Regions from separate parts of the Homo sapiens genome. Here regions 1, 2 and 4 are each linked to region 3. Evidence: fine-mapped expression QTL. A gene starts in region 3. Each other region holds a variant in brackets. All regions are shown on one strand. Distances are between the middles of the regions.

Evidence for each region.
Region 1: its variant is fine-mapped to the expression of AHI1 in fibroblasts (GTEx, PIP above 0.99).
Region 2: its variant is fine-mapped to the expression of AHI1 in lung (TOPMed, PIP above 0.99). The same link has a PIP of 0.9 or more in whole blood.
Region 4: its variant is fine-mapped to the expression of AHI1 in skeletal muscle (GTEx, PIP above 0.99).

The regions. Positions count from the first base shown.
Region 1 is chr6:135,292,842-135,301,251 of GRCh38, forward strand. It overlaps AHI1 (Abelson helper integration site 1), which reads right to left. Exons shown (of 29, transcript NM_001134831.2): 27 at 7,659-7,717. Among named protein-coding and RNA genes, the nearest start is that of MIR548A2, 58 kb to the left of the region's middle. The variant A/G (reference allele first, on the strand shown) is at 4,470.
Region 2 is chr6:135,279,912-135,288,321 of GRCh38, forward strand. AHI1 (Abelson helper integration site 1) reads right to left here. Exons shown (of 29, transcript NM_001134831.2): 29 at 3,621-5,736. The coding sequence ends at 5,734. Among named protein-coding and RNA genes, the nearest start is that of MIR548A2, 45 kb to the left of the region's middle. RefSeq lists an enhancer at 649-3,003. The variant AAAAT/A (reference allele first, on the strand shown) is at 4,675.
Region 3 is chr6:135,493,260-135,501,669 of GRCh38, forward strand. AHI1 (Abelson helper integration site 1) reads right to left here and starts at 4,481. Exons shown (of 29, transcript NM_001134831.2): 1 at 4,324-4,481; 2 at 3,929-3,990; 3 at 2,555-2,639. It overlaps AHI1-DT (AHI1 divergent transcript), which reads left to right and starts at 4,542. Exons shown (of 6, transcript NR_152842.1): 1 at 4,542-4,741; 2 at 5,145-5,258. RefSeq lists silencers at 4,192-4,251, 4,602-4,821.
Region 4 is chr6:135,523,874-135,532,283 of GRCh38, forward strand. All of the region lies in intron 2 of AHI1-DT (AHI1 divergent transcript), which reads left to right. Among named protein-coding and RNA genes, the nearest start is that of AHI1-DT, 30 kb to the left of the region's middle. The variant CAG/C (reference allele first, on the strand shown) is at 4,624.

The DNA of each region.
Region 1 (8,410 bases), 200 kb before region 3:
TACACAAACTATTCTAGAAAATTGAAGAGGTGGGAATACTTCCCAACTTGTTCCATGAAGCCAGCATTATCTCCTCATCAAAATCAGCTTAAGATGTTACAAAAAAATTACAGACCCATATTTCTCATGAACAAAATGCAAGAAGTTCTAAAGGAAATTTTAGCACATCAAATTCAACAAGCACTATCCTTTATAAAAAGGATAACACACCACTAAGTAGGTTTTATCCGAGGAACGCGAAGTTGGTTTAACATTTGAATATCAGTGTAACTCACCATATTAAGAAATTTAAAAACAAAAACCATAGATTACTTAACTAATGCAAAAACATGTTTGAGAAATCAAACATCTATTCCTGACAAAAACTCTTAGGAAAGGGAAACTACCTAATAAAGGGCATTTATAAAAAACCTAGAATAACATCATACTTCATGGTAAAAGATCAAATGCTCCTATTCATTTCCCACATGATCAGGAACAAGACAAGAATGTCTATTCTGACTAGTTTTATTCAACATTGTATTAGAGGTTCTACCCAGTGTTAACAGGGCAAAAAAAAAAAAAGAAAAAAAAAAAAAAAAAAGAAAAAAAGAAAGAAAGAAAAGGCGCCCAGATTGTGAAGAAAGAAAACTGTCTTTTATTTGCACGATTGTCTGTCTACACAGAATATCTCGTGGAATCCACTAAAAGCTATTACAACTAACAAGTGAGTTTAGTAGGTTCGCATAAAACAAGATCAACATACAATAATCAGTAGTATTTCTATAAACTAGCGACAATACCATTTACATATGAAACATGTAGGAATAAATCAACCAAAGACCTATACACTGTATGTCCAAGACCTATACATTGAAAACTAAAAAATGTTACCAAGAGAAATTAAAGAAGTTGTAAATAAATGCAAAGATATATCATGTTAATGACTCAGATGATTGAATATTGTTAAAATGTCAATTCTCTCCAAATTAGTATCTGGATTAAATGCAATATCAATTGGAATATGCTATAGAAATTGATAAGCTAATTCTAAAATTCACGTGGAAATGGAAAGAACCCTAAATATTAAATAGCCAAACCAAATTTGAAAAGGACAAAGTTGGAGGACTAATATTACCTGATTTCAAGACATACTACAAAACTACTCAGTAATTAAAATAATGTGGTAGTAGCATAAAGACAGAGGAATAGAAAAATAATGGGCTGGGTGCCTTGGCTCACACCTGTAATCCCAGCACTTGGGGAGGCTGAGGCGGGTGGATCACTTGAGGCCAGGAGTTTGAGAACAGCCTGGCCAACATAGTGAAACCCCATCTCTACTAAAAATACAATAAATTAGCTGGGTGTGGTGGTGTGCACCTGTAATCCCAGCTACTCAGGAGGCTGAGGCAGGAGAATCACCTGAACCCGGGAGGCGGAGGTTGTAGTGAGCCGAGATCATGCCATTGCACTCCAGCCCGGGTGACAGTGCAAGACTCCATCTCAAAACAAAACAAAACAAAACAAAACAAAACAAAACAAAACACCCAACATTAGCTTGTGTAGTGGTGTACGCTACTTGGGTGGCTGAGGCAGGAGAACTGCTTGAACCCTGGAGGCAGAGGTTGCAGTGAGCCAAGATCACGCCATTGCACTCCAGCCTGGATGACAAAGGGAGATTCTGCCTCAAAACAAACAAACAAACAAACAACCCTCCCCCCAAAAAAAACCAAAAGAGAAATAGAAAAATAATAGATAGACCATAAACAGACCCACATATATATTAAGAGCTGATTTCAGCAAAGGTGCAAAGGCCATTCAGTTGAGACAGAGTTGTTTTTCAACAAATGATGCTAGAACAACAGGATCTCCAAATGCAAAAAAAAAAAAAAAAAAAGAAAAAGAAAAAAAAGAAAATAAACTCTGATCCAAAACTCACATCACATATCACACATACAAACTAACTGAAAACAATTCATAGTCTTAAATAAAAAATTATAAAACTTCTACAAGAAAATATAAGAGAAAACTTTAGTGGCTTTGGGTTGGCAGAGGTTTCTTAGATATTATACTAAAGCATGATTTGTAAAAGAAAAATTTTGGTAAACGGAACTTCAACAAAGTAAAAAACAGTTTGCTCTTCAAAAGTCACTGCTAAAAGAATAAAAAGGCAAAACACAGATCAGGAAAAATATTTGAAAATCACATAGTTGATAAAGAACATATTTAGAATATATAAATGACTCTTAAAATTTAATAAAACAAATAACCTATTACAAATGAGCAAAAGATTTGAACAGAAATTTCACCAAAGAAGATGTATGCATAGAAGGTAAGCACATCAAAGGATGCTTAACATCATTAGTTGTTGGGGATATGCAAAATCAAACAACAATGATATATCTCTACATGTATTGGAATGGCTAAATTAGAAGGACTGACCATATCAAGTATTGGTGAGGAAGCAGAACTCATACATGTTGGTAGGACTGTAAAAAGGTAAAACCGTATGGAAAACAATTTGGCAGTTTCTTAAAAAGTTAAGCATAAACCAACTATATAGTCCAGCCATTCTACTTCAAGATGTCACCCAAGAAAAATGAAAGCATAACCTTCTTCAATGCCTCTTTCAGTGATATGATGTTAAACAAACAAAAAAAACCCCTATGTTCACACAAAGACTTGTATATAAATGTTGATATTAGCTTCATTTGTAGTAGCCACAAAAACTTGTACATAAATGTTGACATTAACTTTATTTGTAGTAGCCGCAAAGTGGAAATGATTCAAAGGTCCATCCACAAAGGTACATGAATAAACAAACTGTGGTATTTAAAACTCTAGACAGTGAGAGAAAGTAGATCAGTGATTATCAGGGGATGTGGCTCAGGGAAGGGAAGAAAGATGTAGGAGGGCAAAATTACAAAAGAGCATCAGAAGTCTTGGAGAGATGGGTATGCTCATTACCTTAATTGTGGTGATGGTTCATGGGTATTTACCCATGTCGAAACTTAAACCGTTTATTTTATTTAATTTCATTTTATTTTTTTGAGATGGAGTCTCACTCTGTCTCCCGGGCTGGAGTGCAGTGGCACGATCTCGGCTCACTGCAATCTCCACCTCCCGGGTTCAAGCGATTCTCCTGCCTCAGCCTCCTGAGGAGCTGGGATTCCAGGCGCCTGCCACCATGTCCGGCTAATTTTTTTGTATTTTTAGTAGAGACAAAGTTTCACCATGTTGGCCAGGCTGGTCTCGAACTCCTGACCTCAGATGATCCGTTTGCCTCGGCCTCCCAAAGTGCTAGGATTACAGGCGTGAGCCACCGCGCCTGGCCGCAATTTATTTTATATCAAGTGTATCTCTTTATAAGTTAGAAATATATATGCATACATAAAATCTGACCTCTTTTCACTAACTTCATGGCTCCCACTTTTTTCCGAGGCACCACCACCAAGTCTCACCTGGATAATTTCAATATTATTTTAACTGGTCTCTCTGATTCAACCCTTGTCCATTAATGTCTATTCTTATCTTAAATGTCAGAGGGATTCTGTTAAATTGTTAGGTCACTTCCTGTGTTTAATGGCTTCCTACTTCACTTGGTGTAAAAGCCAGAAGTCTTATAATAGTATATAAGGTCTTATTACTGTCTCTGATTTTATCCAATCTCTCCCAGTTTCTTACTCTACTCTAAAAAGCCTAATTTCCTTACTTTTCTTTGAGGGTAACAGGTATGCTTCTGCTTCAGGGCCCGCTGCACTTGTGTTCTACATACTCACATTACTCAATTCCCTGCCTCCTTCCACTTTTCTCAGGCCTTCTCTCATGCTCCGATTTACAACTGCAACCTTCATGTCTCCTTTCCTTTCCCCTACCCATGCTTTATTTTTCTCCATACTGTAGCACACATCTGGTATAATTAGACATTTTACTTATTTTGCATATAGGTAAATAAAATGTTAGCTCCTTATAGCAGGGATTTTTTATCTGTTTACTGCTGTACCCTCAGTGCCTAGAACACTGTGTGTGACACTGTAGGTGCTCAGCAAATCTATATTTAGCAAATGACTATTACGTGTCTGTCTTCCTTGCCACACTGGGCACTTCCACAATGTACAAGTTGTGTATCATATCATTCATCACTGCATTTCAGTACCTAGTATAGCACCTAGAACAGAGAGCAGATGATCACATTTTCCCAATTGGACTGATGCTCACAAATGAACTACTGACACCTTCAAAGGCTAATCCTGACCCTTCCTCTTTATGGCAGTAGCATCGAGGTCTAGGACAAGACCAAATTCTTGATACAGACAAATAATGTTTGCTCAGGCTCATGTAAAATGCTGGGCAAATACAGCAAGACATGTCTCCTGGCCCCACCTTCCAATCATCAGATGCCCTCAAGACACTCACATTGCATTCTTCTAGAGCCACAATCTCTATCCTGTTTTTTTCTCCCACTGCAATTCCCCAACTCCAAGACACTA[A/G]TCAGTCAGTCTCCTCCCACTCTCTCCCCTCTCTTCATAGCCGTATGCTCCTTTAAACTAGTTCTTTCCCACATCACATCCAAATGCCCTCCCATGAGGCAGACAAAAACTCAAGCCTTACCTTTATCTAGAGGCCTTCTCTAGCTATGCATATTCCTCCTGCCTTCTCATTCAGCTCTCTTCTGTAATTACAATTTGCATCACATCATTTTGCACCTAATTATATAATTGGTTGCCTTCTAAATGCTTCTTATTTCTATTTCCTCATCTGACCTGTAATGCTTCTTTAATATCTCTCAATGCATCTAGCTCACTGCTGGGCACACTGTGAGGTCACACACATGACAATAAATGCCTTTAATTTTAGAAATTGGGGGTAGGATGAGGATTAAAAAAAGGCAGAAAACGGATAATAAAAGTAAAAATTTAGAAGAAAAGTGGCAAGTAGCAGGATTATTTTAGAAAAAAAAATGTGGACTATAAACTACCTCCTCATAAAGAGAAATGAAAGAGCCTGGAATGGTTATTATAAAGATGGAAAAAAATATACAGTGGAGTGACAGGATGCTTGGAATTGACATTTATAGCCGCACCATATTAAGAAGAGATTTCATTCATTTAGTTCAGATTTCAGGGTTAATAAGACTTTAATATGATTAACTATATGAATTAACCTCTCTCTGAACAAAGCTGTTAATGAAATAAAGGTTGCTATGTTAAAAAAAACCCAACAAAATTCAATACAGGCTATATTAGTTAACTATGGAACATTAATACTACTTGTTAAGGATGACAGCATATTTATAGCAGCCTCATTACCAACTCTGACTTAGGCAGCAGATAATATATGAAGAACATCACAGGGCATGCGGTACAAAATGTAGAAGTTTAAGATTTTCAGGAAAATACTTTTGTTAAATTAACCAATAGAAGTTTCTTCTAGATACCTTAAAAAAGAGAATGTAACTTTACTAAAATGTGTATAAATTGCTTGCATAGAAGTGACTGACATTTCTCAAAAAAAAAAAAAAACAAAAAAACAAGACAAGAAATTCAAGTGGAAAGTAGTAAGAGGCTGTCTATGTGGCTCATTTACATATATTGGTCAACCAACTAATAAGCAAAAGTTACAAACTCAAAGGCAGGGCTGCAAAGAAACAAAAAATTAGCCTCTGTCCATTTACTTGGGTACAAGAAACTCATTTAGGTAAATCAAAGAAATGACTTCTTTGTACATGCTGGGCTCTAGTGTTTCCACCATCAACTCGCCTACAGTTTTCAAGTCATGAGAAATCTATCTTAATTCATCCTTACTTCTAAGAAATTGTAAGTAGGGAAAGTCCAAAAGCTTTAGATGAACTTGGGCATTTAGACATATCTGAACTTCTCATGAAAATTTTTATTTTCAGAAGCATCTTCAAAAAGAGAAGCTGAGCTATACTGACATCCTTTAGAAGCTGAGATGTTTGTGAGGTTTTATTGAACTTTAATCTGGAGGGCATGACATGGATCTCTGTATCTCGTGAAAACTGGTATGAAATGTAGACCGAGTGAGGAGTATGTAGGAGACATTTTTTCATTTGCGTAATATTAAGTAAAAAGTTCTAAAAATTTTTATGAAATATGTTCAAAGACACCAAGAGCACTGTTCCCATGATGTGTTAAACATGGTCATTTTTTTTTGGTTGTTGAAACAGTCTGTGCTTATTGTTTCTAGTGTATTTTGTTGTTGAGTATACGCTCCTTAGGGTCAGTGACTGTTTATCTACTATTATGTAAAATTTTAAATGTCCAGAGACTGGAACTAAAAACATATCTGACTGATAACAGTAAAACAAGAAACTATAAAACCTGGAGAGATTATAGAAAGAATTTCTAAGGTATCTTCTAGATCATGATTCTGTGACTCTTAAAAATTACATTTGTCTTTCATCTGTACAATGAAATACTGTCTTGTTAAATGCTGCATGATTTTATTAGACAATTCCTGTAAATAACTGTCATCTGAATCAGAATTTTTGTACTGGAAGAGACATATTATTCTTCAAATTGCCAAAGCATATAGCAGGGTTAACTTGAACAAATATTTTCCCCAAGGAAGCTCAGCAGGGATTGTCTGTGTGCATGTGTGAGTAAGCAAGCACCCAGCAATGTACGTGGGGGTGGTGGTGATGGGATGGGAGGGTATGATAGCTAAGCTGTTCAATGCTGTCACACTTCCGTTATATTTTGTTAGTAATGTAATTTGAATATAAAGTTTGGACATAATGTTAGGTCCAAAAGATAACTGAAAATGATAAAAATTGAGAAATATGTTGGGAATGTTTTGATGTAAAATTTTTTTTTGAGGCAAAAGAGTGACTTTTGATGGGTACATTAAGTGACACAGCAAGTACTAATTAAAAATATAAAAACTTTCCAGAGTTCTTTTAAAATAAATACTTCAAAATAAATTACCCAAATACATTAAGCATTTATAGAAAATATATAATGACAATGTTCTGCTTATTAGCTTTTTTCTTAATGCTTCAAAAAAGGCATTCATAATTTTACTTTTAATACACGTTCACTTGTTTTCAGTTAATGTTATTTCAAAATAGTACTCAAATAAAAATAAATGACAAAATAGGTCCTCTAAAGTTTTGTGTGATACTAGTTTAATAGGATTTCTTATAACTTTGTAATAATACACATTCTCAGAGTCCAACTATTAAAATATTCATTGTTTAAACAGCCAGGCATGGTGGCTCATGCCTGTAATTCCAGTACTTTGGGAGGCCGAGGCAGGTGGATCACCTGAGGTCAGGAGTTCAAGACCAGCCTGGCCAACATGGTGAAACCCTGTCTCTACTAAAAATACAAAAATTAGCTGGGTGCGGAGGTGCGTGCCTGTAATCCCAGCTACTTGGGAGGCTGAGGCAGGAGAACTGCTTGAGCCCAGGAGGTGGAGGTTGCAGTGAGCTGAGATTGTGCCACGGCACTCCAGCCTGGGTGACACAGCAAGACTCTGTCTCCAAAAAAAAAAAAAAAGAAAAAAAAATCGTAAACAAGCTAAACTCCTTTAAAATCAACTATCTGAAATTTAACTTATAGTTTGATAATGTTATAAAAATAAGAAATGGAGAAATTATCCTTAAAAGAAAACCCCAACCATTTATCACTGCAAATTATTTTGAAGAAGTTGCTTACTGTGTCATAGATTCTGAGCCTAGTCTGAAGTCCTGGGACTTGTTCTTATTGATTGATTGCTGTGGAAGAAGAGGAAAAACAAGTAGTAAGTAAAAAATGAGAAAAGACAACACAGTCAATATTCACATGCTGAAAACCCACCAACTTCCTGAATGGGGAGAGAATATGCCTGTTCTGAACAGGAATATCTATGCCTGTCCTGAACATATATTGTCTATCAGGACAATATATTTGCTCCCATGAAAAACCAAGGAAGTAGTTCTCCAGAGAGTTCAAACACTCATTTATAAGTAAAGTCAGCTTTCAGGTATGTGACCAAAAAAAAAAAAAAAAAATCAGTTGTGAATCAGTTTAAATTAATCTCCCAATACAATGTGGTATATTACTTAAGCTCTAAATATATCTTTTAGCCTGCATCTTTCCTTCATATTCTTTATAGTATACTCTATATTTTCATAGTAATACACATTGATCTGTATGCAAGAGTTTGAATTTGAAAGCTCTTTAAATCTACAAAATGTGTTCAGTATATCTTGTTTTATTAATGGCACCTTCGTGAGAAAAACAATAAGCACTTTCAAGGGTACCAAATTTTACCCTGAGCATCGGATACTTCCTTTAGAATCTGAAACATTAACTTCATATTAAAGTATACTGTGGGAAATTGAGTTTGATATGATATATAATCTATAAATCAACCTAATGTTGCTATAAAACGAATTGCAATTTTTTTTAGAGATAATCACGTTATG
Region 2 (8,410 bases), 210 kb before region 3:
AAGCAGGCTGGGACCACTTGAGGCCCCTTGCCCAGCTTCTCACCTCTTTCCCACTGAGCAGGACTCATTCTCCATCCCTGGGACCTTTCCCCAACATCTTTTCCTTCTCACTGAAATGTCCAGATTTAAGGTTCTCAGACCCCCTTGACTCCACTTGTTTGTAGACTGAGAAACTGATCTTCTCTAGGAAATGGGCAAGGCTGTGGACCGTCATACAATATAGATCTCACTTTTCATGGGAAGTAACTTCACTTCACTCCTGGAGCAAGAAGCCTCGTTTACTACATAGCTCCATCCTTAGCGTCAGTCACTATTTCACCTGCATCAAATTACACACATCAAGTCAAGAGCGGCTCTGTCTTTCACACTGATATGAACCAACAAATAACATATTGTTAGATAGGATCTATTTTGGCCAAAAACCCCACAAGCTTTACATTTTCTTCTTTCTCTGGATTGGATGGGGTTGGAGCAGGAATAATTTCTGTATCATTTGTACTTTAAGTTTGCAAATGGCAGGACTGCAGCTTCCAGAAGAGGCTGGCACACAGAAGCTGGTCTTGTGAGCTTGGCTTACAGGAAAAGAATGTGTTTGAGAGACAACCAAGAGAGAACTGATCTTCAAATCTTCCAGGAGAGAATCCATCCTATCTAGCCCGAGGGACACATGCATGGGAAGCGCTGACCAAACTGTATCGTTCCCCTTCCCAGGACTGTCCCTCTTCAGGAAAAGACCACACATGGCAGAGAAAAGACTGAACTCATGATTTCAGTCTGGGATATTTTCCATATTCTATATATTGTTATTTTGAAATTCAAAAATTACAATCTGTCCTTGGCTACAGGGTACTCTAAATATTAACAGCCCTATATTCATGTATGAAGGCAAAAAAAAAATCTACCTTCACTTAATGTGACTACAGGATCTCTAACAACTATAGTATAACAGTCTGTCGCAAGTGTATTGGATGTTTCAGTTTGCCAGACCTGTCATGATAAATTAATTACAGGATGTTGCAGAAATGGCAACGCTCCAGCAGCATCTTGCATAGTTTAATATAGACCCATTTCCCCATTTCAATGTATTTGTGGTTAGATAAATCCTCAGAAATTTACAGCTGCTATAGACTAGTTTATTATGTACTCTGCCTGCACACATGATAAGTATAAGAATTCGATGTGCTTAAAGTGCATAGATTTTACTGATATTTCTTTACCACCATGGAAATATTTAGTTGCTAAAAGTAGCTTCAGTAGACACGTCTGAACATTAACTTTTGTATAATAGGCAGGGATGGTTAAACACATTACTGTGCTTAACTTTTATTAAAGAATCATAGTTCAGGAAAAGTTATGTGGAGCATTTATACAGAATGGCCCTGTGAACAAATTTAAGACCAAAAAAACACCTTAACTACTGATTCTCAGCTGAAAACATCAAAAAACCAAACTGAAGCTACCAAACTTTTCTCTAGGGAACCTTCTTCCTTTAGTCTTGTGACCGCTTTGCGCAAGCTTCAGTTGCTTATTTTTGCCCTGGCAGCAAGTTATGTTCCTCAACTTCTTGCTTTTTCCTCCTTTCAGACTATTTTTTTCTTATCTTCACTAACATCTCCACTCCAAGCAATGTTAAGAAATCATCCTTTGATTGGCAATATTTGAGTTTACTTACATAAATGTTTTATAAGGAAACCATTCTTAAATTTTCTTCTATTCTTTCATTGGGCTCAAATCATTTTTATGAAGAAATGAACTACAGTGAGTAAAAATCATATTGCTTAGTACTTTTAGAAATAACACTGAAGTATGTATTGGAGCATTTTGACCTAAGTGATAAGAGGTAGAACATGAATTATGTGTGGTGTACATATCCCTTTTTTAGATTGACGAGAAACTAAAATTGATTCTTAGCAGCATTAGCCTCCCTAGCTTTTCGAGACGAAAATAACCCATCTATAATCAGTATGAATTTGAGGTGTTAGAAGAGCAACTTTAGAAAACCCACTGCTCACAACATATGCTTGATGTAGATTTGAAGGGGATCATTAGAAAAATAGCATTCTTTGTGTTTACAAAACAAATGTTTTTGTTATCCAGTTCCCGCCTTAGCTTAAAGTATTTCCTATTCACAATAATTAGAGCAGAAGGATATGAAGAATGAAGTGCCTCATTACCAAGTTTGCTTCCTGGGCCTCGGCAGAGAGTAGCTGTCTGCTTTTGCCTAGTTAGTCCATTGTTAACCCTAAATGATGCTGACATTCAATTCTCCTGCATATAATTGTGTCCATCCATAGAATGAGTTCTCCAGTCAACACAGCCTTTTGATTGACATGCTTCTTGATGTTTTTATTCTCTCATATATGACTGGAATGGCGCCTTTTCGGTTTCTTGAATAAAATGTTACTGTACATGTAATTAGTTTGATTCTACAGAATCTGTTTCTTAAGGAAACATAATTATAGTATGGAGTAAAGATTTACTAAAATAATTATGATAAACAAATGATCAGTTTTTTTTAAAAAAAGTTCACTCAGATATATTTTATTTTATTTAGGTCACTGTTGAATGACAAACATTTGAGATGTTTCTAGTCCCTGAGTGTGGTCATAGGCACATGCCAACTGCTTCCTTACTCTTGTGTGTGTTGTCATGTCCAAATATCAGCATTTTCCTCTCCACAGCAACTGAGATCCAGTACTTTACAGATCACCCAGTGGAGTCTGATATCTCCATTTGCAACTAGCAGTGGCTGGAGTTGTGCAGTTGGAGAAGTTACTTAACCTTCAGAACTTGGTTTCCTTAGTTCTAGAGCAGGGAAGATTTTATCTATCTCATAGATTTGATGTGAAGAGTAAATGAAGTCATGTACATAATAAAGTGAGGATTTGGGGACTATTTTCGGTACAGTTCAATTAAATAGAAACGAACAAATATATAGCTTAAAACATTTGGATTGCTTAAAAGTGTTTCCATAATTCACTAAACAGATATGGCCATCAGATGGAAATCATTTGAATACACATAGAAGTGTAAGGTCACAAACTTTTGTTATAGTTTCTAGAACTTCCTAACTCTTAAAAATATTTGTGGCTAAATATATGACTAAAGTGACAACATGTCACATGAAGCTATAAAATGGTAAGTTATTTCTCAAATATAGTCTTGCTGAGCTTCCTAAAGACATCTTTCTTTAATTAAATTCTTCTATAATTTAAAGATAATATTAAGGTCAAGTATTCATTTGTATGTGATAGAAACCCTGCACAAGATTTCAGAAGTACCAAGCGTTAGCCATTTAAAAGCACTGATTTCATTTAAAATATGCATTTTAAACATAAATTTGCATTCACTGTGTAAAATATTTCATGTTTTAAATCTTTTAAAAACTTGATTTTTATTCTAGCTTTCCAAGTCCTATACATAGTATCATTTCAATACTGAAGAAACATTAATCTTCAAGACAGAGTTGGATGAATAACTGGGCAGTGCATTTCCAACAATGGTTTAAAAATATTATTTAGATATAGAAGAAGACAGTGTCAAATTGTTACTTGTTTGGAGAAAAGAGATGACATGGGATAAAATTCAGTACTTTCAGAATAAAGATAAAACAAACCCAATTTGTTATAAGGAAATGTTTAATGCCGTACATCATCAAATGGATTCTGGTGTCTGATTTTCTGCTTGATTATCAGCTGGATCTATTGCTTGGAGGGCACTGTCATGATCTCCCCCACCCCATCTCATCTCAGATTGTGTGGTAAAGAAACATCTTTTATTAATCTATTCATGAACATAACCCTAGTCTTACTTTGTCAGCGAGACAAAGGGGAAAAGGACTGGGCTTTCAGTAGAGCCAAATTTTCCTGGTGTTTGCTTCAACTGCTATTTTTCTCTTTAGTAGTTGCAATATAAAAACAACCCTTTATTTTTCATATAAACATCAAGAGCTTAGCAAATGCTTAGCTCCCCCTGACATATTTTTCATTCATCTTAAATTATTTCTAAACTTGTTGAAATTCTTGGTGATTCAATCAGAAAATCAACACATATCTCAAAATTATTAGCTGAAACTGCAGAGAAACAGATATTTTTATTTTTAAATTATCAAGTGCATTCACAAGACAGAAAAAAACAAGCTTGTACAAGAGTGACTCAAGCTGGCTGGGCCCAGCTGTACCTGACACACAGACTTATACATCCAGAACAATGAAAACTCAGTGCCATCAGAACAGACTTTTGGGCGGATGGCTGTAGGCTTCACCAGTTATCAGTGCCACTCAACACTTTCAAAAATGCCTTTTTTTTAAAGTTCTACACAGCGGGACATGTTTACCAATTTTTATGCCTCTACATGTGCAGGGATAAGAGCCAAATATATTTTTATTAGAAGATATTTCACACTGGGTATACATCTGGGCAAAATTTACACCTCAATGCCCAACATTGTTTTTCTCACTTCTTATTTTAATGGAATTGACTGTCTAATTTGGATAGGTCTTTCTAATTTTATATTAGTTTTCACTTTCTTGGGGTTAAATATTTTATCAGCAGACCTTATCACACACTTGAGAAAGGAGTCAAGAAAAGAACAAAAAATGAATATCCCATTATAATATCAAACTTCAAAACATATAGTCTATAATAATGACACTATTATTCTGGAACTTAGAA[AAAAT/A]AAATAATGCAATATAATAATGTAAAAATATTAAGATTAAAATAAATATTAAACAATGTAAGTCTACAAAATAGGTATGTGCTTAAATATGAAAAGCCTTTTTTAAAAAGTAAAGACATTGGGAACATTGTTGCCAGTCCAGCCAAAAATCACTTTTAATTTAGGTCTATGAAGTTACCTATATGATTTGATCTTAAGAAACACAAAATTTTAATTAGAAAGTAAATTGTTTTCTTTTAATGTCTTTGTTACTGAGACTGTTTTGAATGCGCCATATTCTAAAGCTGCTTATCTTTTTTGTTTTTTGGAGATAGAGTCTTGCTCTGTCCCCCAGGCTGGAGTGCAATGGCGTGATCTTGGCTCACTGCAACCTCTGCCTCCTGGGTCAAGCAATTCTCCTGCCTCAGTAGATGGGATTACAGGTGCCTGCCATGAGACCCGGCTGATTTTTGTATTTTTAGTAGAGATGGGGTTTCACCATGTTGGTCAGGCTGGTGTTGTTGAACTCCTGACCTTAGGTGATCCACCTGCCTCAGCCTCCCAAGGTGCTAGGATTACAGGCATGAGGCACCGTGCCCAGTCAGCTGCTTATCTTTTAAATAAAGTGAATTTCAAAAACAGATACTTCATATTCTGGGCATAGCATCACACATACAACCATTACCAATATAATAATATTAAATGATTACTTAACAGACATCCTAATAACGCAAACACCTTTTATTCACATTTGCTGAGTAGCAATTACAGTGTTTTCTTCATTAGTTTTCCAACACTGGTAATGTAATTATGATGCAATTACTAACAATATAAGTACCAATACTTTGACCAACAATAGTCACAATGGTTTATAACAACTGAACTCAAAGGCCACGTTGATTTTTCCACCCACAACTTGATTCTGATTTTTCTAGAGTCATTCATAAGAACAAGAAGTAGTGGATCCTTTCTTCCTCCTTAGTATCTGAAAATTCTGAACTCTGAAGAGAAATTCCATTTGGTTTGTCATTTTCACCTCTGTGCATTTCGGCAGCTCTTAACTTTTCTTCAATTCTTTACTGGAAAGAAAAATACACAAAATGTACTAAATAAACTTGAATAATGTCTTCTGACTACAACCAAATCTTAGTGTGCTCAGGCAACAGCACAGGTAATAAAGGACATTGTGTAAAACACAAACACATACAAACACAACTAAAAAAGACCAAAATACTAATTTCCTATCTTCTAGTTTGCCTCTCAAACATTGTTAGCATCTTTTTGTATCATTAGCAATTGTTTAAGGCCTGCTCCTGCATTGACAGGTTAATGTAAGCAAGAAAGAAATAAAATCCCCAAATATAGACACTAAAAACTCCAAACCATAAGTAACTTCCAGAAATGAAGAGCAGGCAATCAGAGTATATGAAATTCTTCATTGAATGGGAAAAAAAGTCCTCATGGATGATATTCAGGGTTAGTGATTCGGAAGGATACAGATAATTTTATTAAATAGCATTCTTTCATTTAGTCTATGGCTATGCCTACTTTTATATAATTAGGTTATTACATTTTTCAAATCAATTAAAAAATGGGCTGTCTCATTTTTGACCAAGATAGTAACAATCAAGCATCCAGATGTGGCTTTGATGTAAAACAAATTATACAATTCATAAAAATCAAGAACCAATATGCAGATGAAACAAGAAGTTGCTTCCTTAGACAGCATGTAGTATTTGCACTACAACTAGTGTGAGATAAATTAGTGGGGCTAAACCTAACATTTTTTAATGCAATCATTCATACAGCATTGATAAGTTCTGGACTTACACAGAAAGGTTACTGTCCTTCTTCTAAAGAGAAAGGCTTAACACCTGGTTGTCCTTAGAAAACACACGGCAGTTTCAGAACGATGGCAAATCTGGTTAAGGTAGCAGTCAACTCCATCGACCACTCCTGAGAAAAGTGACAGCTGGCACACTGTGGCAAGAAAGGGCAATGGCTAACCATTCCTGAAGGGCTTTCCCTGGGGGCACAGGAGGTGTAGGGGACACCTGTGCTTTAAGGAACAGGCCCAATCTTAAATCAATGGTCGCACTATCTTTTCATATAAAACACATTTACACATGAGGGGCAAAAATTCTTTATCACTTGATGTTTCTTGATTTTAAATTTGTTAAACAGAGCTACTCCAGGTAAGCTTGTATCATATATAGAAGCCCAAAAATACGTTCTAGTGAAGCTCATGAATGCACATGAAGTTGAGTATAAAAATGGTACAGAATACGGCATGCCAAGGTATAATACCACTAGGGGCAAAAAAAGTCTCCCTGTACATATACAGAAAAAGTACGTAAAACTTTCACCAAATTAGGATCTGATAAAAATGGAAAAGAAAGTAGTTTCAATGAAGGCTGGGCTAAAGTCACAGAGAGACATATAAACTTCTGCAAAAGGCAGTGAGGAGGGTAAAGGATCTTACAGGAAGAATAAGGCAAAACAAAGTGAGAGGAAGAGTTCATGTTAGTGGGAGGACAAAAAAGAAGAAGAAAAACAGAAAAGGGAAGGGGGAGAAGGGGAGAAGAACAGCTGGAAATTAGTGAGATGGATCCTGCACGTGCAGAAGATGTAGGACAAGTGAAATCAATCAGGTGGTGACTGCACTGTGAGAAGTAAACAGAGAAGCCAGACGGACCTTCAGGAGAAGAACCCAAAGAGAAATTCAACTCGAAAAATCTAAAGTAGGCAGCAAAGATAACATCTTTGAGGGAAATGATTCAGACTCAGAAGAGGAAGAAACACACTGGATAGAGAATGACAAAGATGGCGCATAAAAGGGAGAAAAGAGACAGAATAAAGATGGTCATGTGCACCCTTCGGACACTGGCGGCTCCTCCTGACGATGGGAGGAAAATCAAGAGTGGCACACTGGCTTGATGAACGCTAACAGCAAAAGGACCTGAAAGCTAGGAGACAGCAGGGATGTGCTGAAAGAGGGAGGAGAAGACATCTAACCAAAAGACAAGGATAAATGCAAAGCCATTCCTTCTCTATCTTCTCATAAAGTATCTCTGTAATCTAACAGAGGAAGAAAGTAACGAAGCAAAGCCCTTTTTAAAGGCTCTTGTGATGAAAAGAGAAAGAAACATTCTTCTTAGCAAGCTTATGAAAACAAGTATGAAACTAGGTTAGTGTTTGTGTGTATGTTATGTCTGGGGAATAAGATTCATAAAAATACCGGGCCGTGGCCGGGCATGGTGGCTCATGCCTGTCATCCCAGCATTTTGGGAGGCTGAGGCGGGTGATCACTTGAGGTCAGGGGTTTGAGACCAGCCTGGCCAACATGGTGAAACCCCATCTCTACTAAAATACAAAAATTAGCCAGGTGTGGTGGTGGGTGCCTGTAATCCCAGCTACTCGGGAGGCTGAGGCAGGAGAATCACTTGAATCCAGGAGGTGGAGGTTACAGTGAGCCAAGATCGCACCATTGCAGTCCAGCCTGGGCAACACAGCAAGACTCCCTCTCAAAAAAACAAAAACAAAACACAACAAAAAAACCTGGACCTTACCCCACAAGACATTCAATCCAATAGATCTTTCCTGAAGGTTTACTTCTGTGGCAAGACACCAGGCTAAGTGCAGGGGAGGAAAAAAATGTGAGTATGTATTAAATAATAGCCCCTGACTGGAAGCACTGGCCATCTAATCAGAGTTAATATACAAAGCAATGTGTAAGAGAAACAGCCCTGAACT
Region 3 (8,410 bases):
AAGTGTTGGGATTACAGGCGTGAGCCACCACACTGGGCCCAAGGCATTATTGGTTAATGCTCCAATTCCCTGGACATCCACATTCATGTTCCTCTTGCAGAAATGTCTAAGAAATTCTAAAAAGAAAGGAATGATTATGTAAACATACCTAACTATGTCAGTTAACTTAGGCAACAACTACGTGGCACCCAGTCAAAACAGACATCACTAAATCCATGGAGTAAAAATTCCTATACTTTAGTGATAGGAGCCTGTATTTACTCCTTCTAGCAGTTATAAATTTAATAAATCTAGTCTTCTACTTTCTAGTCTATATTAAATTAGAAAAGAGAAGCTGCAAAGGCAAGTGCAATGACAGCATGAGTAATTGAAACCTGAGAGCACGGAAGTAGAAAAATCATAAAACAAATAAAAATTTAATATTTATACTACTCGATGGTCATCTAATAGGCCAGGAAAAAGCTGACCTATATTATGACTATGATTCATCAAAAAAAAGCCTGCTGGGCGCCGTGGCTCATGTCTGTAATCCCAATACTTGGGAAGGATAAGGCGGGTGGATCACTTGAGGTCAGGAGTTTGTGTCCTGTCTGGCCAACATGGTAAAACCCCATCTCTACCAAAAATACAAAACTTAGTCAGGCGTGGTGGTGGGTGCCTGTAATCCCAGCTACTGGGGAGGCTGAGGCAGGAAAATCGCTTGAACCTGAAATGTGGAGGTTGCAGGGAGCCAAGACTGCACCAGTGCGCTCCAGGTGATGGAGTGAGGTAATATTTTAGAAAGATTAAATAACTAATGAAGAGGCAGGAGAAAGAATCGGAGATAATTCCCATGTTTCTAGAACTAGAATAAGTAGATTAGTAGTATCATTACACTGTAATATAATGCAGTACAGGGCAGTAGTTTAAAATCCATGTCCTAGAATTAGTTTCCATAGTCACTTGCGTGACTTTTGTTTCCTCATCTATAAAAACACCCTACCAGTGCCGACTCAAAGGGTTGTTGTAAGGGTTAAATGATTTAGAACAGTACCGTAGACAGAAGAAGCAACAATAAATGTTAGCTATAACTGTAACAGGTTGTTAGGGTGCAGTCACTGAGCTTAGTATGGGTCATGTTGAGTTGGGTATCTGAAGGGCACTGAGCAGCTACAAGCATCAGCTCCATTTTCAGATCCTTGGATCCAAATACCAGTTCTATCTGCCAGCAGATTCACCTCTATGGATATCAACTTCCTAATCTTTCACAATAATAAGAGTAAATCACTCACAGTGTTTTTATAAAGATTAAATGAGAATATGCAAATAAAATACTAGGCACAATGCCTAGCACATGGCAAGCCCTTCAAAAACAACAACTGTTATTACTGTCACGTGTGTGTGTGTTTACGTATATAATCATATTATGTTTGTTAGGCAATCTACTAATCCAGCAGGGAGACAATAGGCTGAAGATTTGGGAGTTATTTATAAATATGATAGTTCCAAGAAAATAAAAAGCCAATGAGAATCCTGTGAGCCTACAATATAAAGTAAAATCAGGGAGATAGGTGAAAAACTGGGAGATAGAAGCATTACAGAAGCAAACCCAAGTTTTAAAGGAGATGTTGCCTATATACTGTGTGGCATCAAAAGGGGCTGGAGGTTTTGAAGAAAGTCCACTGAATCTGCAAGTAGGAAGTCACGTGTGTCAAAGCTGTTTATAGAGGGGCAGAAACTTAGCAGGCTGGGGCTAAGGAATGAATGGAAGGTGACACCTGTAGAAGGGACATGTAGACAATTCTTTACAGAATTCTTCCAACTGTCTTCCCATCACCCCCAAAGGCAGTGACATGAGACAGTAACTCTGAGGGACAAAAACACTGTGGAAGGATTATGCTTTTTGTTTTAAGATTGTTTCCACGCCGCTATCACCTTTCCCTTAAAAAAAAAATCATCATCTACACAGCAACTAGTGTAATTTTCTAAAATTCAAATGTGATGGTGTCGTTTCTTCGCTTAAAATTCTTCACTAGCTCCCAATCGCACATTGAAAAAAATATCAAGTCCTTACCAGTGAGGTCCAAGGCCATTTATGAAATGTCCCCTTCACACATCCACTGTGTTCCAGACATGTGAAACTACCTGCAGGCCTTCACGTGTGCCAAGTTCTCTCTTGCTTTTGTATCATTACACACATATCCCCTCCCCTGAAAAATGTGCTTCCTCCTTTGTCTCTCTAACAAACTCCTCACTATCCTTTAAAGGCAAATGATATCTTCTCTAGAGAGCATTCTCACCTTGAAGGGCATTTAAGAACTTCTCTTCTGTGCTTCCAGGGTGCCTTAATCTTTGTAGCTCCCTCTACCTCAACCTTGAATTTTCACCCTGGTAAAATGTTCTGTAACTCCCACCAAACTGCTAGCTTTGGAGGACCAAGCCAATGCTCTCTTATAGTTATGTATCTGCCACTATGAAAGAAAAGAGAGGAGAAGAAGAGAGAAGCGAAGTGAAGAGAAGCAAAAGCAAAGCGAGTAAAAAAGACTCAGGCTTGAGCTCTAGTGTCACCACTTACTGATGTGTGGCCTTGGGCAAGCTACTTAATTTCTAATCCTTGGTTTTTCCTTGTCTGGGAATTTAAAATGGCACCTATTTTAGTACTGTAAGGAGAAGAGAAAATACCAAAAAGCAAAGTAATCAGTACATTGCAATAAAATTACTTTATGTCCATTATTATTGTATTAAAAATAAGTAAATAATTACAAATAAAATATATAAATCATATACTTATTTACTATTAACAGCTTAATACACAACTAAACTAATAAATACTAATATTATGTAATGATAACACAGCAAATACAGTACAGAAATCATCTCTAATTTTTTTTTTTTGGAGACAGAGTCTCGCTCTGTTGCCCAGGTTGGAGTGCAGTGGCACAATCTCAGCTCACTGCTGCCTCCGCCTCCTGGGTTCAAGCAATTCACCTGCCTCAGCCTCCCTGGTAGCTGGGACTACAGGTGTGGGCCATCACACCCAGCTAATTTTTGTATTTTTAGTAGAGATGGGGTTTCACCAACATTGGCCAGGCTGATACTGAACTCCTGACCTCAAGTGATCCACCCACTTTAGCCTCCCAAAGTGCTAGGATTACAGGCGTGACCCACTGCGCTCAGCCATCTCTAAATCTTAATATGTACTACAGCAAACATGATAGAATTAACGGCTAATATTTGATTAGTAACCTCTGCAAAAAATCAGATAGGACTTTAAAAGACACCTCTGATTCTTATATATTCCATTATTTTACAACTTCTCCCTCACAAACCCTTTCACAGGAGCGTCTAAGAGATATTACACAGGAAAATTAAATGGATTACATTTCATCTCATTTTATTTTACAGACAACCTGATTATCAGCCAATATGTGGCTCAATATCATTGGGAGAAAAAACTGAGAGGCTTGATAATTCGCTCCTTAACCAAATGTTATCGCAAGGGAAAAAAAGACAAACAAAAATCCTGTATACAAAATTCAATGAATAAATCAACAAGATTCTTCATAAGTAAACAAGATTCTAACTTCATAAATATTATTCCTCATAAACAAGATTCTAGGTATGGTTTAAAAACACTTTTGGTATTTGAATTTCTTTCAAGCATTCTTTAAAAAATTTCCCAGAGTACTCATAAGAAGCAATCTTCCTCCTAACGCCCAAGCAGTAACAGCAACTGTTAATGCAACAGGTGAAAAAATCGTTGGCATCTCTTTCTCAAAAGAAAGGGGAAAGCTTTATTTTCACAATAGATGTTTTTACAGGAATGCTAAACGCAGCACAACCTTTGATAAGGATTCTTAAATGGTCTACATTTTTGTTCTATTTTTATGCATCTCGAAACAACCCTATTAATATAATTTGGCTCTTATAAATATAACAAATTGATCACCTTTTCTCAGACATAATTAAGAAGGCTTTGACAGGTTGAAGATTCAGCCCCAGGTTGACACTCTAAAAGGAAATAAACACACTCAGTACACATCTGATTTAAAAGCATTTAAATAAGAATCGGGAGTAGGAAAGGCAAAGATTGAATTCTCTATCAGAGCACCATGCTCAACTCTCCGGGGACACGGAGACCAGTGAAAGAAGCGCAAAAGTACGGTGAGGACTCTCAGAAATCGCATTCCCCCGGGACACCCGGCCCACGCTCGTCGGTCACTACGCTATCAGCCTCCGCGCTCTCGGACTCCAGCAGCCCCGACACGCCGCCCAGGAGAGGGCCGGGCAGGCCGAGCACCCCGGCCCGCGCTCCCGCCACCAGCGCACCCATGATGTACTCACGGAGAGGGGTACGCAGAACCGCCCGTCCCGCCGGAGCCGACACCCGGAGCAGTGCAAATCAACTCCCCCAGCCTAGCGGCGCGTGCGCGAAGTGAGGCGGCCACGCAGCCACCTAACCCGCCAGCGACCCGTGTCCTGAAAGCAAGCCGCGGCTCTGTGCCGCAGTGCGGACAGCGCGCCGCCTGCTGACGTCAGCGCCTGCCTACGCCGCCGTTCCCATGGCGACCGATGCGTCCCGCGCTCTAGGCGAAGACCGCGGCCCCGTCCCCGCGCCTCCACCGCCTTCTTCCAGGAGGAGGGGCCGTGCGGCGCCTGCCCGGGGGCCCTCAGGCCGCAGGCGGGCGCGAGCTTCAGGGAACTTAGGGGGCTCCCGCCTCCCCGGCCACGCGAGCGGGAACAGTCTCCTCCACTCGGAGCGGTAAGGGACCCGGAAATGCGCGGGTGCCCCTACAGAGTCTTGAGTTTTCCCCGCCCTCACCTCCGAAAATGCTCTTTTCGCCTTAGAATTGTAGCTAGCGCAGGGAAAAACTGACTGGGCAAAGGAAAACTGGGGAGGCTGTCATGGAAGCCGCCCAGAATAAGAAAATGAATGAATGAGGCAAAGAAACAGATTTGTCACTCCCCACGCGATCGCGCCCACAAAAGAAAACATGGTTTTAAGGCGTGGAAAATGAAGTTGTACTACAGACAAAATTTTAAGAAAAAATTATCCACTGTTCCTTTAGAGCTATCTCCCTGTGTGTGAAAAACAAAACAAAAGTTAAAACGCCATCCTTTTCTACACCTAATGCTCCCTCCCACTTTTCTGATTTCTGCCACAGGCGCCATCTTCAGCTCTGAGTCACCAGGGCTGGAAAAATACTAGATGCGCTACTCGTGGACTCGTGAATACACTCGTGAATACAGGCCATTTCCTGTACCTACAGCCACCCGCTGTAAGCTGTTGCTTCATTTGTACAGTAAGAGTTTATGGAGGCCAGCTTTTCCATTCTTACTGACATTGCCACACCTTACAAACTATATGTCTTGTGCTTCCCTAAATCCTGTGAGGAAGCAACGAGAAAGATTACTAATCCAATGCGTACCGAACTGAGCTGTTCAACTTTCCGTTCTAAACATACTCTCCTAGATTTCTATCTTGCTGTAAGCCACCACAATCCTCCCAGTGTTTTAGTAAGAACAGTAGAGTATCCTAAATGCATCTTATGCCAAAGCATATCCATTCTCTCTTTTTAACTTCCTCAGATGGGCCCTTTACCAGTTCTCTGACTCCAGTTTGACTCTTAAATTCTCCACACTGCTATCAGAATGACCTGACTAAAAATGTAAATCGGATAATGGCACTCTCCTGCTGAAAATTTTTGAAAGGCAATCTGTAAGAGAAAATGATTACTTTGCCTAGGATACAAGATTCTCCATCTCCCTGACTAGTTTCATCTCTCGTTAGCTTCTTGTTCCAATTTTATGCAATATTGAATCATGTGTACCATGCAGTTTTATGCAACATTGAATTATGTGTACCATGAAAAACAATCCATAGCCTTTCACGCCCCGTCCTTACTCATATTGTCCTCTCTTCCTGAAAATTCCTCCTTTTACACTCCTGCATCACAGCCAAATGTTGTCCATCCTTTGAATCTTAAGCAGGTTGACTGACTCCTTCAAACACTCCTACTCCCTATTAGACTTCGGATACTCATTCTATATATTAGACTTTGGATGCTCATTCTATAGTTTCATAGTTTACTTTGTATTTTCTCTATCCCCAGCATCTACCACAGTGTCTATGAAATAGTTGGCATTTCATGAACATTTGTTGAATGAATAATGGATAACATATATTGAGCTCCTTCTAGGAGGTATGCATTGTAGGTGTTTTATGTACTTTTCATCTGTCCTCACAACTGCATTTAAGTACCTGCTTTTCCAAAGGGAAGTTATAACTCTGACTGCTCATTCTTAGTAGGGTGTTAGTTTCAGAATACAATCCCCAGACTAGCGGATGTGTAACCCTGTTATCATCTCTTGCTTCTCCATTTACAGTAGCATGCAGAGGTGCAGTGGGGTGGGGGAGGTCAGGGAATATTTCATAGCAGAAGTGACATTTAAGTAAAGACCAAAATAATGTGTAGAGTTGTCCAGGTTAGGAAGGGTTTCCAGGTAGAAGAAGGTGGCGTATAGTGTTCACTACAAGAAAGTTTGGTATAATACAAGAACTGGAAGAAAAAAAAAAAAAGTTCAAGTTGGCTAACTAAAAGGTAGAGAATGAGACTAGGGGCTTTTGGAGGAGACAAAACAAGAGAGTTAAACAAGCTATGAAGAGACCCAGACAGTATTGGTCAGTGGAATACCACTATAGAATTTTATGGAGTGAAATTTTCAAATTTTAATATCATAAAGATAACTCTGGCTGCAGGGTGGAGAACAGACAGGAAGGAAGCAAATCTAGATCTGGGAATACCATTTAAGATGCCGTTGCTGTAAGCCATGTAAGAGACAAAGGTGGCATGGTCAAGGCTAAGAAAAATCAGAATGGAGAGAAATGGACCAATTTGAGAAATTTTTAGGAGGTAAAAATGTCAGGACTTAGTGATTGATTGGATGGAAGAGTGAATGATAAGAAATAATAAAAAACGATGACCAGCTGTTTTGCCTTCCCCTTGGCAAGTAAAGAGGTGGCAAGCATGAAAGGGGAGTGAGGAAATAAATATGTTGGGTCTAATGGGAGCCAGGTTTCTCACTGACAGAGAAGGACGTTACAAATTGAGAGAGGAAGAATTCCACAGTGACCTTTGTGGTGATGTTGAATTGGAATTGAATATGTCAGTGTCAACTCATAGTTTTCAATATATACATAAACATATGTAAAAATAAATATAGAGGAAAGTATGTCTGTATGTGTGTGCGTATCTATCTATTATGCTCTTCCTAGCTCTATCTGCTGAAAGGGTTTCAGAGTAATGGTATACTAGAAGCAATGAGCACATGTGCCTAGATCTTGGTTTCTGAACAGTATTATTCACTAAAAGTAACTGGGTCCCTTGGAGAAATGGTTGATTTTAGAACAGGAGCCTGGAAAATTCTTGTTGCACCAGAAGTTAAGGAAGTTAATACAGAATGAAGAAACATATCAAAAGGTCACAGAAGCCAGCTTGAAGGAGCCACCACTGGCCACATCTGGGTCAATCTGAGCACCAATATAATGTTAATGGATTATAGTCCGCTAAATAAAATAGGAATATTTGAGCCCATACTAAAATGAATAAATGATTTTTTTGAAAAATCAGGATAAAGAAAAGCTCTGCCTTACATAAAAATGCCAACTAAATGTAATGAATGTAGACAGTGTTATATGTAGAAACATCATTATTTGGCAGTCATGATAGTAACAGTTGATTCAGACTAGAATCATCAGTGTATGCTAAAACTAGAGGGTGAGAGTATTAAGAGACATATAATATTTATATAGTCTCAAAGTATCTCTCCAGCAAATACTTATTAATTACACAGAGAAAAATTAGAAAACTTGACAGTGTAGAAATCTGGCACTGGTGAGCGAAGTTACCATCAGCAGTCATGAGACAAATCAGCATCGTGTATGTCCTGGTTAGAGGCACTTAGAATACACTTCTGTGACATTCCTGCCAAAAATGTGTAATCCGAATCAATCGTGAGGAAAAAATCAGACAACCCAAATGTCCCAAATTGAGGGACATTCTACAAAATAATAGACCTGTACTCTTCAAAGATCAAGGTCATGAAAGACAAAGGAACAACTAAAGAACGTTTTTAGATTGAAGGAGAATTAAGATACATGACAATTAAGTGGAATACATGATTCTGAATTGAATCCTTTTGCTATAAGGATATTATTGGGACAACTAACAATTTGAATGGGGTCTCTGGATTAGATGGTAGTATTTTAACAATATTAATTTCCTGATTTTGATGACTATAGTGACATAGATATTTTTGGTTTTAGAAAATACATATTGAAGTATTAAAGGTGATGAGGCTTCATATCTGCAACCTATTCAAATGGTTCAGGAAAAAAGTATACATAAATACTGTAAATAAATATAAACAT
Region 4 (8,410 bases), 31 kb after region 3:
TCCTTCATGAGGTAGCAGATGGATCTAATCTATTTTTTATTTTATTATTATTATTATTATTATTTTGAGACAGAGTCTCGCTCTGTTGCCCAGGCTGGAGTGCAGTGGCACGATCTCCGCTCACTGCAAGCTCCGCCTCCCGGGTTCACGCCATTCTCCTGCCTCAGCCTCCCAAGTAGTTGGGACTACAGGCGCCTGCTACCACACCCGGCTAATTTTTTGTATTTTTAGTAAAGATGGGGTTTCACCATGTTAGCCAGGATGGTCTCGATCTCCTGACCTCATGATCCGCCCGCCTTGGACTCCCAAAGTGCTGGGATTACAAGCGTGAGCCACCGCGCCCGGTATTTTTTTATTGTTTTTAAAGTGACTTATGCAAAGGTGGCTATGCCTTTTTATAAAAGATTAGCACAAAGGGAGAATAATAACATTTGCAAATTATTTGCTTGAAGCTTTTATTTAGAAATCTGTTACATGTCCTTTTTTGATATATATATATATATATATATATATATATATATATATATCTCTATAGATCTGTAGCTAGATTAGGGAGAAATTTGGGCCTAAATTTGAACTTTTATACACCAATTAAAGCAAGTAGAATTTGTAATATATTTCACCACAGGCCACAATTTCTGCCCTGGAGAAGGGGTCAGATCGTGGTCTCCATCTAGGGGAGCAGTTACCTGATAGTCACATAAACTGCAGGTCAGGCCCCTCTGTGGTCTGCCCCTGTTCAGGTTGGATTTCCAAGAAAACAGGCTCTAAGGAGAAGGTTTGAATATGGAGATTTATTTAGGAAGGCTCTTGGGATCCATCCTTGGGGTGGGAGTGAACAGATGGGGATAGAGCGGAGTAAAAAAATACAGAATTGGGTGGAGGGAGAGAATGAATAACAACGCTGCCATAATAAACACCTCAACTAATCCTATGGGGAAGACTGGGGCTGGGATGACCCCAGCTTTGAGAGGCAAAGGGGGCTGTGCCTTTATGCTCCTGCACAGACCAGTCTCCCAACCCTACCCAACTGCAACTTGATGAATGAGGGCCCTTTCTTCAACTGTGGTCAATTCCCAAGAAGGGAATCAGATGAGTACTGGGGGAGTGCTATAGTTTGAGTGTACGTGTCCCTCCAAAATTCATATGTTGAAACCTAATCACCAAGGTGATGGTATTAGGAGGTGGGGACTCTGGGAGGTGATTAGGTCATGGGGGCTCCAGGTTTGTGAATGGAATTAATGCCCTTACACAAGAGACTTCAGAGATCTGCTTCCCCTTTCATCTCCTTCATCCCTTCCACCATATGGGGAAACAGAGTTCATCCAGTCCTCCATGTTAGGATGCAGCAACCAGGTATAATCTTGGAAGCAGAGACAGACCCTCACCAGACACAGTCTCCTGGGACCTTGATCTTGGACCTTCCAGCCTCTAAAACTGTAAGCAATAATTTTCTGTTATTTATAAATTACCCAGTGTAAAGTATTTTGTTGCAGTAGCAGGAATGGCCTAAGACATGTAGTGAGTGTTTCAGTTCTGAAACTGCAAGTAGAGATCCTGGTTGTGGACTCTAAGTTCCTAAACCTCCTCATCACTTATTGGGAAAGTCAGTTTTGGGGCTCAGGACCATTAGGAAAATTCAAGATTCCTGCCTCATTCAAATGGAGGGCTAAATGCAGGGTAGGAATAGCAAGAAGGTATTTTCTTTCAAGCCCATTTCCCTCTTCTTTCAGGCTGTTAAAACATGTTCACTTGTTCACCTGCTAGTGGCCATTGGCTCAGGGAAAGTGAATCAGATCCCTTGTTCAAGGGGATAAATTTAGTTACTCTTAGCCAATCATGGTGATTCTATTCTGCTTTTCAGAGACTGGTTTAACAAGAGTCATGTGATCTTTCTGGTCAATGAAAGATAAGGGGAAGCCAGCCTGGAGTTGCTTCAGAAAGGCTGCTCTTAAACAGAAACATATTTGAAGAAACAGTAACTTTATTCTGACTCTTTATGTGTGTGGCGGAGGAAGTGATGCCTAGAGCTACTACAGGCACTTAGGCCATGAGGAGAACCAGTGTAAGTCAGCAAGCCAAGATGCTAAAGACAGCAGAATAAGAAAATGGCAAGAATCTTGTCCTTGATGCTGTTGAGCTACTGAATTAACCAGGGCTGCAACTCCCTGTATTAGTAAGGATTCTCCAGAGGAACAGAACCAATAGAATGTATATATAAGTATATAATAAGGAATTAGCTCATGCAGTTACAGAGGCTGACAAATTCCAATATCTGCAGTTGGCAAGCTGGAGACTCAGGAGAACTGACGGTGTAGTCTAACGGCTAGCAGGCCCAAGAACCAGGAAAAGCTGATTAAAGTTCAAAGGCGGGAAAAAAAAACCCAATGTCCCAACTTGAAGGCATTTAGGCAGGAGGAATTCCCTCTTATTTATGAGACTGTCAGCCTTTTTGTTCTATTTAGGCTATCAATTGTTTTGATGAGGCCCACAACATTAGAAAGGGCAGTGTGCTTTGCTCAGTCTATCAATTTCAACGTTAAACTCATCCAGTATAATGTTTGATCAACTATCTGGGTATGCCATGGTTCAGTCAACTTGACACATAAAGTTAACCAATCGTCAAAACCCCCTACTTTTGGTTTCTTGATAAATAAAATAATATTTATCTTCTGTTTTAGTGGAATAAAGGTATGGAAAACGCTTTGATCAGTTTCTGTCTTTTGTTGATCTGGAATTGCAGTATCATTGTGATTAAAGAAACTAAAATACAGTGTAATTAGGGGATCACATCCAAATTTTGCAAACCCTTTGGTAATGTTTAGAATATATTTGATTAATTCATTTTCAATTCAACAAACACCTGTTAAATACTAACTATATGTCAGCTAGGTACATGTTATATGTCAATGAAAAAAAAAAGAAAAAATTCCCCTTGTGGGGCTGACATCTAGCATATAAACAAATGGTCAATTTTAATATAGTTTTGGGTTTATTTAAGCTTATTACAGAATAAAAAAATAGTGCCCCAAACTGACCACTCTTGCATAGCCATGCCCAGCAGCCAATACTACATAATGTCAACCTACAACACAGCACCATCAAGTTGTTACTCAAATGAGACCTAGGCTTGACGGGATGTTAGGAGGTCCATTTCTATCAATCAGAGTCTGGAGTTCATCCATCGCCCTAAGCCTGCTATTGAGGGAGCCCTATGTAAACATTTATGTGGCCACCAATAAATAGTAAGCCCCTCAATCCCAACCCTAACCTCACTGTGTTTCTAGATTCTTGCCTCTGTTCTTTGTTTGCACTTTATTCTTTGCTGGTAACGGATTCTAGCCCTGAACTCCAGCCAAATTGTCTGGGCCTACGAATTGACTAGTCTTGCCAACCTCTTCTCTCTGGGGGATCTGGATCCTATCCCAATTTTCTCCCCTCTGCAGCCCACTGGCTAAGGCCCTATTACAACCCAGACAACCTCTCCCATTCCGAACATAAAACTGTCATCTGTTGGATAATAACATTTCCCACATAACCAGTTCCTGGTGCCATGCTCCCACCTGGCTTGAGATGGTGACTGTCACCATTAATCTGGTTTGGATTCAGGTTTGGTATGTCCTGTTAGATGCTGAGACTTGGGGGAGCTTATAGTCATATACCTCAGACCTCCCCTATCCCCACCAGTCTTGGCTTACTTCTCTCTCTCCTACAGATCTACAGCTGGGGTTCTCTTCTGGCTCTCCTGCCAAGGCCAATCAGATCGCAATACAAAAAAGTAACACTTTCCAGCATTCTGTAGAGTCTGATTTTCTAAACAGTTCTTTAGATTTTAATGCATCTCAATAATAGTTATAAGTAACATTTTATTTTTTTCTGTGGCAGATTAGGCCTCCTGCAAAATAGTCATTTTCAAAAATTGTCTAAGATTCAGATGCCGCACCCAATGTTTATGCTTTTTGCAGCAATATGGTCCTAATTCAACATCATGCAGCGTGCAAATCAGTGTTTCTTCTAACTTCAACAGTGATAAATATTTATTAAGCCTCCACTATGTTCATGGAACTATACCAGGTGCTGCTATAACTATTTTTCCTTTCCAGGAAAAATAAATTCAAATATGGAATAAAAAGCCCAAACTCATGAAACTGGACTGACTTTGCTTCTTAAAAATTCAACATGCTGCAGCTGCATGCTTAAACCTGGTTCAAACAGGATGATGAAATAAAACATTATTATTGTGGGAATATAACACTGTCTAAATAAATAGCCAACATGAAAACTGTCTCTAAAACCCATAGCATCTGTATGTGCAGACTGTAAGTAAGTTATATAATTCCTCCACTATTCTGTAACATGGCCAATTCAGAATGTCTTACCATTAATCTTGAAGACATTTAAAGATGTTCACTTTTCTAACTCTTCCCTTTGAAAATATATTTGAACCTTATTTGCAATAAAAATCTCATAATATTGTATTACTTTTTGATGTGTCATTTCTGTTAAATGGTGCCTGGAATAAATCAGCTTTGACTTTTCAGATTACATGTGTTGTTCCAGAGTTTTAGTAGTTACAACATACATTTACATTTTCTAATGTCCTCACTATAATGAAGATAAACA[CAG/C]GGGTAATTTTTCTCATGTCATGTGTATATAGGATAAGATTACCAGGCCAACAGTGTCACTATCAGATTTCTTTCAGAAAGTGTTTAATGTTGAATTTTAATCACATGCTTGAACAACTAGGACTTTTTGGGTTTTATTTTTCAAATATGTGTTAGTAAGAAAACAGACTGAAATGTGGAATGTACCAGATAAATCTCTTTGGTGATTTTACATATCTGTATGATCATGTTTGACTTAGAAATACCAATCTTTTGATCTTACACTTCAAATGTTACATCTGTGAACATAAAAATCTATATGGCTATAACTTTCCAGGAAGAAATCTTGCTCAAGTAACTAATAAATGATCCAAGTTTTAGATAATTCTGACATAATTCCAACATATTTCCTACAGTATTTTGCTTTAGAAGACTTTCTGACCCAGATATTTATGGCTAAAGTCCATATTTTATAGATCAAATGATAATTACCTTGTAGAGGAAAGCATTTGTTTTTGAATAGTGCCAGGAGCAAGTAAGTGTAACTAATATTACACGATAGATATTTCTGCAGATAAGTGAGCTTAACTCTCGTGGTTAAAACTTATGGTTAAATTTCCACAGATTAGTAAAAGTTCTCAGTTTTATTAACAATTCTCCATTTTCATTAAAAGCCCTACTTTCCTGATAGTTAGGCTGATGAGAAGTTAGTTCAGAGGGCTGCTCATTCCCATATTCATCACTTTTTATTCAGTAATGTTATTTTATGAATAATAATTTTCTTATTTGTTGAGGCGTATATCATGATGTTTAGATGTACATTACTATTTGTCCAATGCAACTAATTAGTTAAATAGGAATGAGTTGTAATGATCAGAGGTAATCCCAGAAAATATTTTTTCAAGTTTACAAACTTATAACTTTATAACTTTACAAGTTATAAAGAGACCTTCATAACAGTTAATTAAATCAAAGAATCCTTTAGTTGGACCATAAGCACTAACAGTCGGCATTCCGTGAATATTTGTTATATGTTTGGTATTTTGCTAAGCACTTCATTTTTTTTAAGTGTCATTTAATTTTCACATGAACCCTATGAAATATGTATCATTATTAGTCTTATTTAAATGTTGCTGAAGCTGATGCTTCAAGGAAAAGTATCATGCTTAAGGACGAACAGCTACCAGGTGGGGAACCGGGGACCTGAACTGGGTAATCTAACTTAACTTCTGCTTCAGTATCATTTTAGTTATATCTTTCTTGTACAAGTATGTCTCATCTTCCCTGTTAACTCTTCATTGATAGGAAAGACCATCTTTTTTTAATCTTTATGTTCCATTACTTGCCTTGGGCACAGTAGAGACCTATAAATGTTTGGTGCTCACATTTAATAAAAATGTAGTAATAATAGCACTATGATATATAGCAATAATTTTTTTTTTTTTACTTTTTAAGGGTTAAATAGGGTCAACGTGATTGACTCACTTGTTTTTGCTTATTGTACTTAAACGTCTAATATGTTAGATTAACTCTATTATTAATGATTTGGCCACGTAAAGTCAACGGCTATTCTGAAATAAACAAAATGGTCTGTAAATCCCTTGGTATATTTTTGCTGCCAAAGAGTACAAACATTCATTCAATAAATATTTATTGAGTAGAATGAAGTGAAATCCAAGTGCAAGAAAACAGCAAAGAAGTAACAGAGGTGATTGAGAAAATAGAAAACAGTAGTGAGATTCAGAATGACAGCAGTGGCTTCCACTTTAGTGTAGGTAGTTGAAAAAAGCCCTACCACAAAGTTAAACTTCAGCTGAGACTAGACGGGTGAGGAGGACATGAACTTGGCCAGTTTGAAGGTAAAGATGGATGATGTGGCTGGAGTATAGTGAAATTGTAATTTCTACCAATCTAAAATCCAAGGCAAGCTTTGCCTGAGCCATTCCAGACTTCCCTGGTGGATATGAATTAGATCATTCCAAGTCAAATGTTCATGTGTTGAAATCTAATACTAAAGATCCCTTAAAAAATTTTTAGACTAATTTCAATGACCTTCCATTCTGGTCACTTAGGATAATGGGCTAAAATAGAAATCCCTCTGAAACATTATTCTCTCTTACTCTTATGGTTTTCTGTCTTCTCTGGATCAACACGAATGGTACTCCCTCCACTGCCCCAAATATTTTAGCCGCAACTTGGAAGCCCATGGCACATCCTGTGTGTATTAAAAGAGGGCTCCATTGACTACCTGGTAATGACAGATGCTTGGTTCTCCTTGGAAAACAATTCTTCTAGGTCACTCACTTTCTCCATTCAAGACTCTGACACCTGGGTCACAATTTCATCCTCTGCTAAATCCTGTTATTATCTTCCCTGACTTCAAAGGTTCTTCCACCTCTCCAACTCCAGTGATTTTCACATACCTTTGTCACCCCACAAAATACTGGCAACTGTGGATATACTCTGAACTTTGTTATTCCCTACAATTGTCCTGCCCTCTTACTTCCAGCTCTCTCCTCAGACCTTACTCTCCATAGATGTCTCTCTGACACCACAGACATCTCTTATCTCATGGCTCTGTTACCCCAGTTTATCTACCACATTGTTCTTGTTTATATCCCTCCCCAGCTTGAACCCTATAACTTATTGATGGAACCACTTTTTTGTACCAACATCCCCAAATCTCTGAAACCTTGGACTTTCCTATGCATATACCTTGGCTGTTGAACAGTCTCAGAAAAAGGTCACTTGGTATTTGCTAGGGGCCAATATAATATTTAACTTAGCTGGAGTCTAATCAATGCTTGACTGTCCTATGCTTTGTTCTTGGTTAGTAATTCTTGCCACCCTTCCCAAGAACTTCTTTAGATTCCTGCCATTCCCCCTTAAGATCCTTTTTAACTTTTTCTTGGTGCCTTGGCCTTTTATTCTACTGACAATATTGAGATGTTGAAGAATGAAAACTTTCAAACACCCATACCTTCCCTCAAATTTTGAACCAGAATCATCCTTGACTCTCTCCCACCAATCTCAGTGGAAGCTCTCTTGCCTTCTTCCCAAGGCCAGGCCTTCCAGTTAGGATCTTGATTAGGATACTATTCTGTCTGTTCTCCAATTTTCTTATATGCCTTCAACTTTTCTGCTTCTCTTCATCTGTCTTTTCTTAAGGCTTATGGAACTCCCATTTAAAAAATCTTTGAATTTGTGTGCCCCTTTAATGTTAGCCATGTCTGTATCAGCTAACCTTTATCAGCTGTTTTCAGAAAGAATAGTCTGCACTTGACCACCACCACTTCTTGAATTCCCCATTCATTCACCTATTAAAATCGGGCTTCCTCCTCTATCCTCTGCGCTGACAATATCTGGCTAACCATAATTGATCTTACTATTTTTAAATCCATTTATTTTATTTAGCATACTAACCCATTTCTTGAAACCACCTCTTTATTTCATTAATGCCCTCTTCTGTCATCGAAACTCTCTGCCTATTGCTTCCTTGTCCCCTTTTTCTATCTTTTTTCTTTGCATAATTCAAAATGCTGGTACTCTTGGAGGTCTTTTTTCAGCCCATTGCTCTTATTACTCTGCATATGCTTCTTCAGATAGGGGCAGACAGGATGTGGTTCTCATTTAATTTCACAGTATGTATTATCACCTATAAGTTGACGCCTCAGATCTGCTCAGCAACTTAGGCTTCCAATTGGAAGGACCATAACTTAGTGAAATAAACATACTCCAATTACTGAAAATTTTCTACACCAGGTTCCCCTGCCACTCTACATACTTCCTCACATGATGGTGCCAGC